Regions from separate parts of the Homo sapiens genome. Here region 1 is linked to region 2. The links come from fine-mapping of genetic effects on gene expression. Tissue or cell type: whole blood. Region 2 holds a variant in brackets; the other region holds the start of a gene. All regions are shown on one strand. Distances are between the middles of the regions.

Region 1 (5,145 bases), 190 kb after region 2:
GGGTCCCTTTCCTGTGCTCTGTCCCCTATAAAAGAAAACAAGAAATTACTTAAGTCTGTTCAAGCCCTCTTAGACCACTATGAAATTAATGTTAAATCCTAGAAGTATATACCACCTGATGATGCTGATTTAGACTACAAAATTGTTAATCAGTAAGATTTTTCTATTTTTTTTGAGACAGGGTCTCCCTCTGTTGCCCAGGCTGGGGTGCAGTGGCGTGATCTCAGTTCACTGTAGCCTCAACCTCCAAGGCTCAAGTGATCTTCCTGCCTCAGCCTCCCGAGTGGCTGAGACTATAGGTACGAACCACCACTCCTGGCTTTTTTTTTTTTTAATTTTTAGTAGAGATGGGATTTCCCATCTGTGTTGCCCAGGCTGGTATCGATCTCCTTGGGCTCAAGGGATCCTCCCACCTTTGCCTCCTAAAGTGCTGGCATTACAGGCGTGAGCCACTGCGCCCGGCCAATAAATAAGATTTTCAAACTGTCACCTTGTAGAGGAAGAAAAAAATAGACATTAATAAGCCAGCAAACACATTTCCTCCAAATGCCAGCAAAAAGATCTCAATCAACAATGGTTGTCAATTGCTCTAAGAACCAACGAGAAAGGGGCTAGGGCTGCAGGCTACCAACAGATCAATGCTACAGTATTAACCAAAAAGCCACGCCAGCTGTGAGGGCAAAAGCTCCAGGAGTGCAGCTTTGGAACTACCTAGCTCAGGTACATTACCTCCCAAACAGAAAAGACAATCATTTTCAGCAGCCTGACGCCTCAAAACTGTGGGAGGAGGGGTATCCCCTCCACACCCCATCCCCTCGACCTCATGACTCATTCAGCCCGTTACCCACTCTGCGGGGATCACCAATCGCCAGGTAACCCTGCTCGTCGCTGGCTGATGTAACCGGCGGTTGAGGGCGAAGAGGGGGCCGCTGGCGGGGCTGGGGGACAGCGCAGCCGCAAAAGCCATCCACCGGGAGGCCTCGCCCGGTCTGCGCCTGCGCACTAAAACCCACGGGACTTTCCGAACCCCCACCTCCAGCGATCAGAGCCCACTGCGCCTGCGTGTGCTGCCACTCTTAATTCCATTAACACACACACACTCGCACAGGAAAAACTGAGCAGGGCCTCCACTACTCATGCACTGCCACCAGACGAGCCCCTCCACGAACTAGTCCCTGCCCTAGGTGTTCCCGGGGCGCGCGAATGCCCGGGTCATGAGACCGAGCATCCACGCGCACGTACGGGAAGGGGGCGCGCGCGCCAGAGGCTCCCGGCCCGCAGTCCTCCCAGTCATCCCTCCTTCCGTCCCCCCGCCCACCTCGCTCCCCTCCTACTGGCCAGACCGGGAAGGGGGAGGCAGCAACCCGCTCCCAAGTCCCTCCCTCCCCATTGGCCAAACTGTGGGCCGCGCGCCCCCCTCCATTGGCTACGGCCGGGGACCCCTTCCCGCAGCAGACTCCCCATTGGCTGAAGCCGGGGACCGCGAGACCCTTCGTGGTAATGGAACCGGGGACCCCGATCAGCTCCTTGCCCCCCCCCAACTCCCCGTTCCGACGGCGCCGGCGGGATGCGCCCCGCCTCCCCTGAAGGCCGGGGCTGCGAGCCCTGACTAGGCCCCGAGAGCCGAGCGCGGCCCCTCAGTGCTCCGGTGGCCGCCCGGGGACCCTTTCCGTCCGACCTGTTCGGACCTGAGGGGGCCCTCCCCCAGCTTCACGGGGACTCCCCACCCAGCCGGTGCCCCTGACGGTGCCGGGTCGGGGTCCGCCCCACCGGAACCGAGCCACAGCCTCTGGGTGGCCGCGGCTCCCTCGCCCGGAGCCCACCCTTCTCACCTGGCGCTGCCGATGGCGGCTGCCCCCGGCCTCTCCTGGTGTTGCTGCGGCGGCGGCGGCTGCGGCGCCAAGATGCCTTCGGCTCCCCGGCGGAGCCCGCTCCCGGCAGCGGCCACAGGCCCCAGGCAGGGGGAGGCGGCCGCTGGAGGCCCGGGAGGAGCCGCAGAGGTGGCCAGCGGCCCCGGGAGGCCGCCGTTGGGAGGGCTGGTGCCCCCGGGGGGCCGACGGGCCACGGCCTGTTGCGTGGGGGGCGGCTGCTGGGGCTGGGAGGGCTGTTGTAGCGGCTGAGGCTTCAACATGATGGCAGCGTCCGGAAGGGGAATTAGAGAGAAGGGAGGGAGAGAGGGGGCCGGGGCTGGGGCCCCGCTGGAGAGCGCGGGAAGCGAGGGGGATCGGGCAGCCGGGGCCCGCCGTGGGCGGGCGGGGGGAGCCCCGCGGTGTCGGGGGTGGAGAGAGAAGACCGCGGCGCGAGGAAGCGCCGCGAGGCGGAAGGGGAGGGGGTCTCGCGGCTGGAGGAAAGCGAGAGGGCGCGAGCCGGGCTGGCGCGCGTGCGCGTCGCCGGGGAGCGGAGAGGGAGGAGCGCGCGGGTGGGAGCTCCCGGGGGGGGGGGGGGGGGGGGGGGGCCAGGAGCGAGCAGTGGCGCGAGGTGCCGCGCACACCGGCGCGGTTAGCTCCCGGCGGGAAAGTGGGAGAGAATCAAGTCGGTGAACCTCGCACCCCTAGCCCTGGGAGTGGGTAAGGAGCGGCGCGGGCGCTCACGCGCGCCAAGGATTTAGGGTCTTAAGGTCTCAAACCGCCTTAGAAGCCGGCGGCCGCTGTCGCTTCACAATGAGCGTGTGAGGCGCAGGGGGAGGAGCCGAAGGCGCCAGAGGAAGGGCCGGCCTCTCCGCCCACGCCGTCGCTGCGTCGCGATGCCTCCGCGGGAGTGTGAGGCGGCACGTCGTGCGTGAGGCTCTTCCGCCACTTGGCGGCCCGTGGGCAGAGCCTTAAGTGCCAAGAAAGTCTCCGGGACTGGACCACCCGAGCCACTGCGCTTTTAGGCAGGTGGTAGGTTTCGCAAGGAGCTACCCTCCACCTTGTTTGCTTTAAGTAAAAGACTGATGAGCATTAGTGATTCGTTTGAGCGTGTTGATCTTTGCAGATAAATTTACGCCTCGTCCTAAATTATTTCAGATTTTTGTGATTTTGACCTAAATTGTTCCTCCATGCCCGAGAATGAATCTTTAAACTGTAATAACAAAGACTGAAGGCCAAAGTTCCGAGTTCAAAATCCTCCACCCGACCCTGCAATGAAGGCAGCTTCATTCATTCAAAATGAGTTGGGCATTGGAGTATTCAGTTAGTTGTTTTGGACACAAGGATAATTAAACTGCTTCCTGCTCTGGAGGAGTTCATGCTAGTGGTGAATTCAGAGAATTTGACGAGATCTAGTAGGTGAAGCACAGAGGACTACAAGAGCAAATGGGAGTGACACCTAATCTTAATCCAGTTTTGGGAGACCCAGATAAGGGACAGGAGGGCCGGGCGCAGTGGCTCATACCTGTAATCCTAACATTTTGGGAGTCCGAGGCAGAAGGATCGTTTAAGGCCAGGAGTTTGAGACCAGCCTAGGCAACAAAGTGAGACTTTGTCTCTACAAAAAAAAAAAAATTTAAATTATAAAAAAAAACTGATAAGAGGGCAGGGGGAGATGGGTTTCTAGGCAGGGAAATAGGATATGACAAACTAAGAAAAACTCAGCTTGTCCTAAGCATAAAATTAAAGGGGGGAAGAGGTAGCTAATCTGGGATCAGGTTTTAAAGGCTCCCAAGTCTTGTAAGAGACACGGACATTATCCTCAAAGCAGTGGGGAGCTTATTTAAGAAAGTGAAAAGAGGCTGGGCATGGTCTGTAATCCCAGTACTTTGGGAGGTTTGAGGTCAGGAGTTTGAGATCAGCCTGGCCAACATGGTGAAACCCTGTCTCTACTAAAAATGCAAAAATTAGCTAGGCGTGGTGGTGCATGCCTGTAATCCCAGCTACTCAGGAGGCTGAGGCAGGAGAATCACTTGAACCAAGGAGGCGGAGGTTGCCGTGAGCCCAGATCGCACCACTGCACTCCAGCCTGGGTGACAGAGCAAGACTCCTTCCCCCCAAAACAAACAAAAAAACAAGTGAAAAGAGGTCAGATTTGCATTTTTAAAGGTTTACTCTTTGCAACGTGGAGAATGGAGTGGAGCTGTTAAGTCCATGTGGTCTTAATCCCAGCGAAACTCTCAATGTCTCAATCTCTTCGCTCTAAATGTTAGCATTGGAACTCTTCCCAGCCCCTGCACCAAACACATGCACACCTAGCTACAACACTGCCTTACTTTTTGGGTAATAGTCCTTCGCCCTGCCTCGCTCCTGCCTTCAGATGTGCTAGTTTCCCCTCCTGTGTGCTCGCCGAGCAATTTATCCCACTGTATTCTAACAGCTCCTTTAATTCTGTCTTCCTGCTAATGTCAGCTCCCTAAGGGTTAGGATCTTGACTTATTTCTTGCTCTGCAGTACTCTAGCACACTGCAGGCACTCAATGAAATATCTGTAAGGTGAGTGGATCCAAATGATGTTTTTTTGTTTGTTTTTGAGATGGAGTTTTGTTCTTATTGCCCAGGCTGGAGTGCAATGGCGCGATCTCGGCTCACCACAACCTCCGCCTCCCGGGTTCAAGCGTTTCTCCTGCCTCAGCCTCTTGAGTACCTGGGATTACAGTCATGCACCACCACACCCGGCTAATTTTGTATTTTTAGTGGAGACGGGGTTTCTCCATGTTGGTCAGGCTGATCTTGAACTCCCGACCTCAGGTGATCCACCCGCCTCGACCTCCGAAAGTGCTGGGATTACAGGCATGAGCCACCACGCCCAGCCCAAATGGTGTTTTAAAGGTCATCATGTCTCCTGGGTTCCCTAACAAACACAGTCCAGCTTTTTCCTGGCATTACCTGGACCACCTGATGCCATGCCACCTCTCTACCCTCATTGACAGATTGTGAGCACTGAGCACTCTAACCCCCTTCCATCTACCCCATCCTGCTCCACACTCAAATTCTGAGTTTTAGCCCCATGAAACTTCTTTCTCCATAGCTTGCCTTGCCCTTGCTAGTGGCAGCTAATTTGCATGGGGTCTACAGCAACCTCAATTCTTGCCTCCTCAGAAGAAAGAATTCCACCAAGGGGCATAAGGCAGAGGGAGAGACAGAGGCAAGTTTTAGAGCAGGAGTGAACGTTTATTAAAAAGTTTTAGAGCAGGAATGAAAGGAAGTAAAGTACACTTGGAAGAGGGCCAGGCGTG
Region 2 (5,145 bases):
TTAGGGTAATGATGTCAAACCTCCAAGATACGGCATTACACGAAAAAGCAAAATACAAACAGTGCGTGGAATTATACCATTTATATAAAAACGAAGTGGCTGCAAATTTGCTTAAACGTGCATTTGCTTATAGAAGTGTGGAAAATCTTTGGGTAACTGATAAGAATGACTGTGACTTTGGACAGGAATTTGGTGGTTAGGGAACAGGTGGGAGAGAGATTTTTCTGTTAAAATCTTTAGTACCTTTGGAATTTTGAACCACAGGAATATACTGCCTTTTCCTTTTCTTTTTTTTTAGGCTGGTCTCAAACTCCTGGGCTGAAGGTATCCTTCTGCCTTAGCCTACCGAGTAGCTGGGATTACAGAGTACTGCCTATTAAAATATATATATCTATATATATGTGTGTGTGTGTGTGTGTGTGTGTGTGTGTGTGTGTGTGTGTGTAGCTGGGCACAGTGGCTCATGCCTGTAATCCCAGCACTTTGAGAAGTGGAGCCGGGTGGATAACTTGAGGCCAGGAGTTTGAGACCAGCCTGGGTAACATAGCTAGATCTCATCTCTATAAAAAAAAAATTTAAAAATCACCTTGTATCTCATAAATGTAAACAACTATGATTTGTCAATCAAAATAATATTAATTAAAAAATTTTTTAATTCTAACTGATATCACACCAAATTAAAAAAAAAAATTAAAAAGGCCGGGCACATTGGCTCACACCTGTAATCCCAGCACTTTGGGAAGCTGAGGAGGGTGGATCATCTGAGGTCAGGAGTTCTAGAACAGCCTGGCCAACATGGTAAAACTCTGTCTCTACGAAAACTACAAAAGTTAGCCGGGCGTGGTGGCAGGTGCCTTTAATCCCAGATACTCAGGGGGCTGAGGCAGGAGAATCACTTGAACCTGGGAGGCAGAGGTTGCAGCGAGCCGAGATCATGCCATCACACTCCAGCCTGGGGGACAAGAGAGGGACTTTGTGTCAAAAAATAAAAATAAAATAAAATAAATAAATAAATAAATAAATCGTAGGCCAGGTGAGGTGGCTCATGCCTATAACCCCAGCACTTAGGGAGGCCAAGGCTTGTGGATCACTTGAGGTCAGGAGTTTGAGACTAGCCTGGCTAACGTGGTGAAACCCCGTCACTACTAAAAATACAAAAATTAGCCAGGCGTGGTGGCGAGCACCTGTAGTCCCAGGTACTCAGGAGGCTGAGGCAGGAGAATTGCCTGGACCCACCACTGCACTCTAGCCTGGGTGACAGGGTGAGACCCTGTCTCAAAAAATAAAAATTAAGTTTAAAAAATCTTAAGAAGTAAGAAGACTACTTCCTGATTTCAATATGTGTTACAAAGCTACAGTAATCAAAACAATGTGGTACTTGGCATAAAGACAGAGATATAGACTAATGGAATAGAGAGCCCGGAAATACATCCTTACATTTATTATTATTATTATTATTATTATTATTATTATTATTATTATTATTTTTGTTACAAGATCTCACTCTGTTGCCCAGGCTGGCACACAGTGGTATGATTGTAGCTCACTGAAACTTCAAACTCCTGTGATCAAGCTATCCTCCCACCTCAGTCTCCCAAGTACCTGAGACTAGATGTGGGTGTCACCATGTCTGGCTATTTTTTTTTTTTTTTTTGGCAGAGACCTAGTTTCACTACATTGCCCAGGCTGGTCTCAAACTCCTGGCCTCAAAGGATCCTCTCACCTCTGCCTCCCAAAGTGCTGGGATTACAGGCGTGAGGCACCATGCCTGGCCCACCCTCACATTAATGGTTAAATAATCTTTGGCAAGGGTGCCAAGACCATTCAGTGGCAGAAAAAGCAGTATCTTCAACAAATGGTGTTGGGAAAACTGGCTATTCACATACAAATAATGCAGTTAGACCCTTATCATACACCGTACACACACACAAAAAAATTTTTTTGAGACGGAATTTTGCTCTTGT[C/A]GCCCAGGCTGGAGTGCGATGGCGCGACCTCGGCTCACCACAACCTCCACCTCCAGGGCTCCAGGATGCTCCTGCCTCAGCCTCCTGAGCAGCTGGGATTACAGGAGCGCACCACCAAGCCTGGCTAATTTTGTATTTTTAGTAGAGACGGGGTTTCTCCATGTTGGTCAGGCCGGTCTCGAACTCCCGACCTCGGTGATCTGCCCGCCTTGGCCTCCCAAAGTACTGAGATTACAGGCATGAGCCACCATGCCTGGCCATATACAAAAATTAATTCAAAATTTAAAGACTTAAATATAAGGCCTAAAACTATAAAACGCCTAGAAAAAAAATATAGGGAAAAAGCTTCATGTCACTGAACTTGACAATGATTTATTAGATATGACACCAAGAAAGGCACAGGCAGCCAGGCACGGTGGCTCATGCCTGTATTCCCAGCACTTTAGGAGCCGAGGTGGGCAGATCACTTGAGGTGAGGAGTTCAAGACCAGCCTGGCCAACATGGCAAAACCCTGTCTGTACTAAAAATACAAAAATTAGCTGAGCGTGGTGGCACATGCCTGTAATCCCACATACTCAGGAGGCTGAGGCAGAAGGATCACTTGAACCCAGGAGGTGGAGGTTGCAGTGAGCCAAGATCGTGCCACTGCAATCCAACCTGGGCAACAAGAGTGAAACTCTGTCTCAAAAAAAAAAAGAAAGAAAGAAAGAAAAGAAAGGCACAGGCAACAATAACATCAAAAAAAAGGTAAAATAGGACTACATCAAAATTAAAAACCTCTGTGCATCAGCCGGGCGTGGTGGCTCACGCCTGTAATCCCAGCATTTTGGGAAGCTGAGGCAGGTAGATCACCTGAGGTCAGGAGTTCAAGACCAGCCTGGCCAACATGACAAAACCCTGTCTCTACTAATAAAACAAAAATTAGCTGAGTATGGTGGTGAGAGCCTGTAGTCCCAGCTACTTGGGAGGCTGAGGTAGGAGAATCGCTTGAACCTGGGAGGCAGAGGTTGCAGTGAGCTGAGATCGCACCATTGCACTCCAGCCTGGGCAACAAGAGTGAAACTCCATCTCAAAAACAAAACAAAACAAAACAGAACTTCTGTGCATCAAAGGACACAGTCAACCCCGTGAAAAGCAACCTATGGAATGGGAGAAAATATTTGCAAATCATATATCTGATAACAGGTTAATACCCTAAATATTTTTTTAAAAAACTCCTACAACTCAACAACAACAAAACAACCCAACTTAAAGAATGGGCAGGCTGGGCATGGTGCCTCATGCCCATAATGCCAGTACTTAGGGAGGCAGAAGCAGAAGGATTGCTTGAGCCCAGGAGTTTGAGGCCAGCCTGAGCAACATAGCAAGACTCTAGACTCTAAAAAGATAAATAAAAATAAATTTTTAATGCGCAAAATACTTGAATAGGCATTTCTCCAAAGATGATATACAAATGGCCAACAAATGTATGAAAAGATGCTCAATACCACAAATCCTTAGGAAAATGCAAATCAAACCCATGAGATACCACTCTATACCCACTAGAATGGTTATGATCAAAAAACAGGGCCGGGTGCAGTGACTCACGCCTGTAATCTCAACACTTTGGGAGGCCAAGGCAGGAGGATCACCTGAAGTCAGGAGTTCGAGACCAGCCTGGCCAACATGGTGAAACCCCATCTCTACTAAAAATACCAAAAAAAAAAAAAAATTAGCTGGGCATGATGGCATGTGCCTATAATCTCAGCTACTTGGGAGGCTGAGGCAGGAGAATTGTTTGAACCCGGGAGGCGGAGGTTGCAGTGAGCCGAGATCACATCATTGCACTCCAGTCTGGACAACAGAGTGAGACTCCGTCAAAAAAAAAAAAAAAAAAAAAAAAAAAAAAACAGAGAATAACAAGCGTTGGGAAGGACATAGAGAAATTGGAGCTCTTGTTCTCTGTTGGTGGGAATGCAAAATGGTGCAACCTCTATGAAAAATAAGATGGCAGTTCCCCAAAATGTTAAAAACAGAACTACCATGTGATCTGGCAATCCCACTTCTGGGTATATATTTAAAAGAATTAAAAGCTAGAATTTTTTTTTTTTAACAAAGTCTTGCTCTGTCGCCCAGGCCGGCAGGCTGGAGCTCAGTCTTCCTCCTCCCAGGTTCAAGCGATTCTCCTACCTCAGCCTCCCAAGTAGCTGGGATTATAGGTGCACACCACCACACCCAGCTAATTTTTGTATTTTTGGTAGAGACAGATTTTCACCATGTTGGCCAGGCTGGTCTTGAACTCCTGACCTCAGGTGATCCACCCACCTTGGCTTCCCAAAGTGCTGGGATTACACACGTGAGCCACCGTGCCTGGCCTAAAAGCTAGATCTTGAAGACGTAGCTGCACTCCCATGCTCATAGCAGCATTGCTCACAGTAGCCAGGGTGGAAGCAACCCAACTGGCCATTGAAGGATGAGGGGATAAACAAAATATGGTATATCCATATGTCTTAGTCTGTTTTGTACCACTATAACAGAACTCCACAGACAGGGTAATTAATAAGAAAGAGAATTGTATTATTATTATTTTTTAGATGGAGGCCAGCAGATCACTTGGGGGGCAGGGGATGGAGTCTTGCTCTGTCACCCAGGCTGGAGGGCAGTGGTGTGATCTCGGCTCACTGCAACCTCCGCCTCCTGGGTTCAAGCAATTCTCCTGCCTCAGCCTCCTAAGTAGGTGGGATTTCAGGTGCCCACCGTGTTTTGAGTAGAGACAGTGTTTCACCATGTTGTCCAGGCTGGTCTCGAACTCCTGACCTCAAGTGATCTGCCGGCCTCAGGCTCCCAAAGTGCTGGGATTACAGGCATGAGCCACTGTCCCTGGCCAGAAAAAGAAATTGTTAAAAATACACTTCTGGAGCCTGGGAAGTCCAAGCTTGGGGGCCTGCATCTGGCAAGGGCCTTCTTGCTGTGTCAGCCCATGGTGGAAGGCGGAAGGGCAAGAAAGCATTTGCAGGAGACAGCAAGAGAGAGAGCTGAACTTGCTTTTATAACAACCCGCTCTGGCAATAACGACATTAATCCATGCATGAGGGCAGAGTCCTCAGGGCCTAATCACCTTAACAGTCCAGCTGAGACTGGAGAATAGCAGGGGGAATTGGAGGTTGGATAGAGGGTGGAATGAGTAGGAGCAGAAGCAGA

What was found. PIP is the estimated chance that this variant, and not a neighbour inherited with it, causes the effect.
Region 1: ATXN2L starts here. The variant in region 2 is fine-mapped to the expression of ATXN2L in whole blood (INTERVAL, PIP 0.90).

Annotation. Positions count from the first base shown.
Region 1 is chr16:28,820,246-28,825,390 of GRCh38, reverse strand. ATXN2L (ataxin 2 like) reads right to left here and starts at 2,392. Exons shown (of 22, transcript NM_007245.4): 1 at 1,833-2,392; 2 at 1-25. The coding sequence starts at 2,131. LOC124903672 (a long non-coding RNA gene) reads left to right here and starts at 1,349. Exons shown (of 2, transcript XR_007065042.1): 1 at 1,349-1,497. RefSeq lists a silencer at 1,186-2,335 and enhancers at 2,656-2,865, 2,377-3,113.
Region 2 is chr16:29,014,717-29,019,861 of GRCh38, reverse strand. No RefSeq gene overlaps it. Among named protein-coding and RNA genes, the nearest start is that of LAT, 32 kb to the right of the region's middle. The variant C/A (reference allele first, on the strand shown) is at 1,965.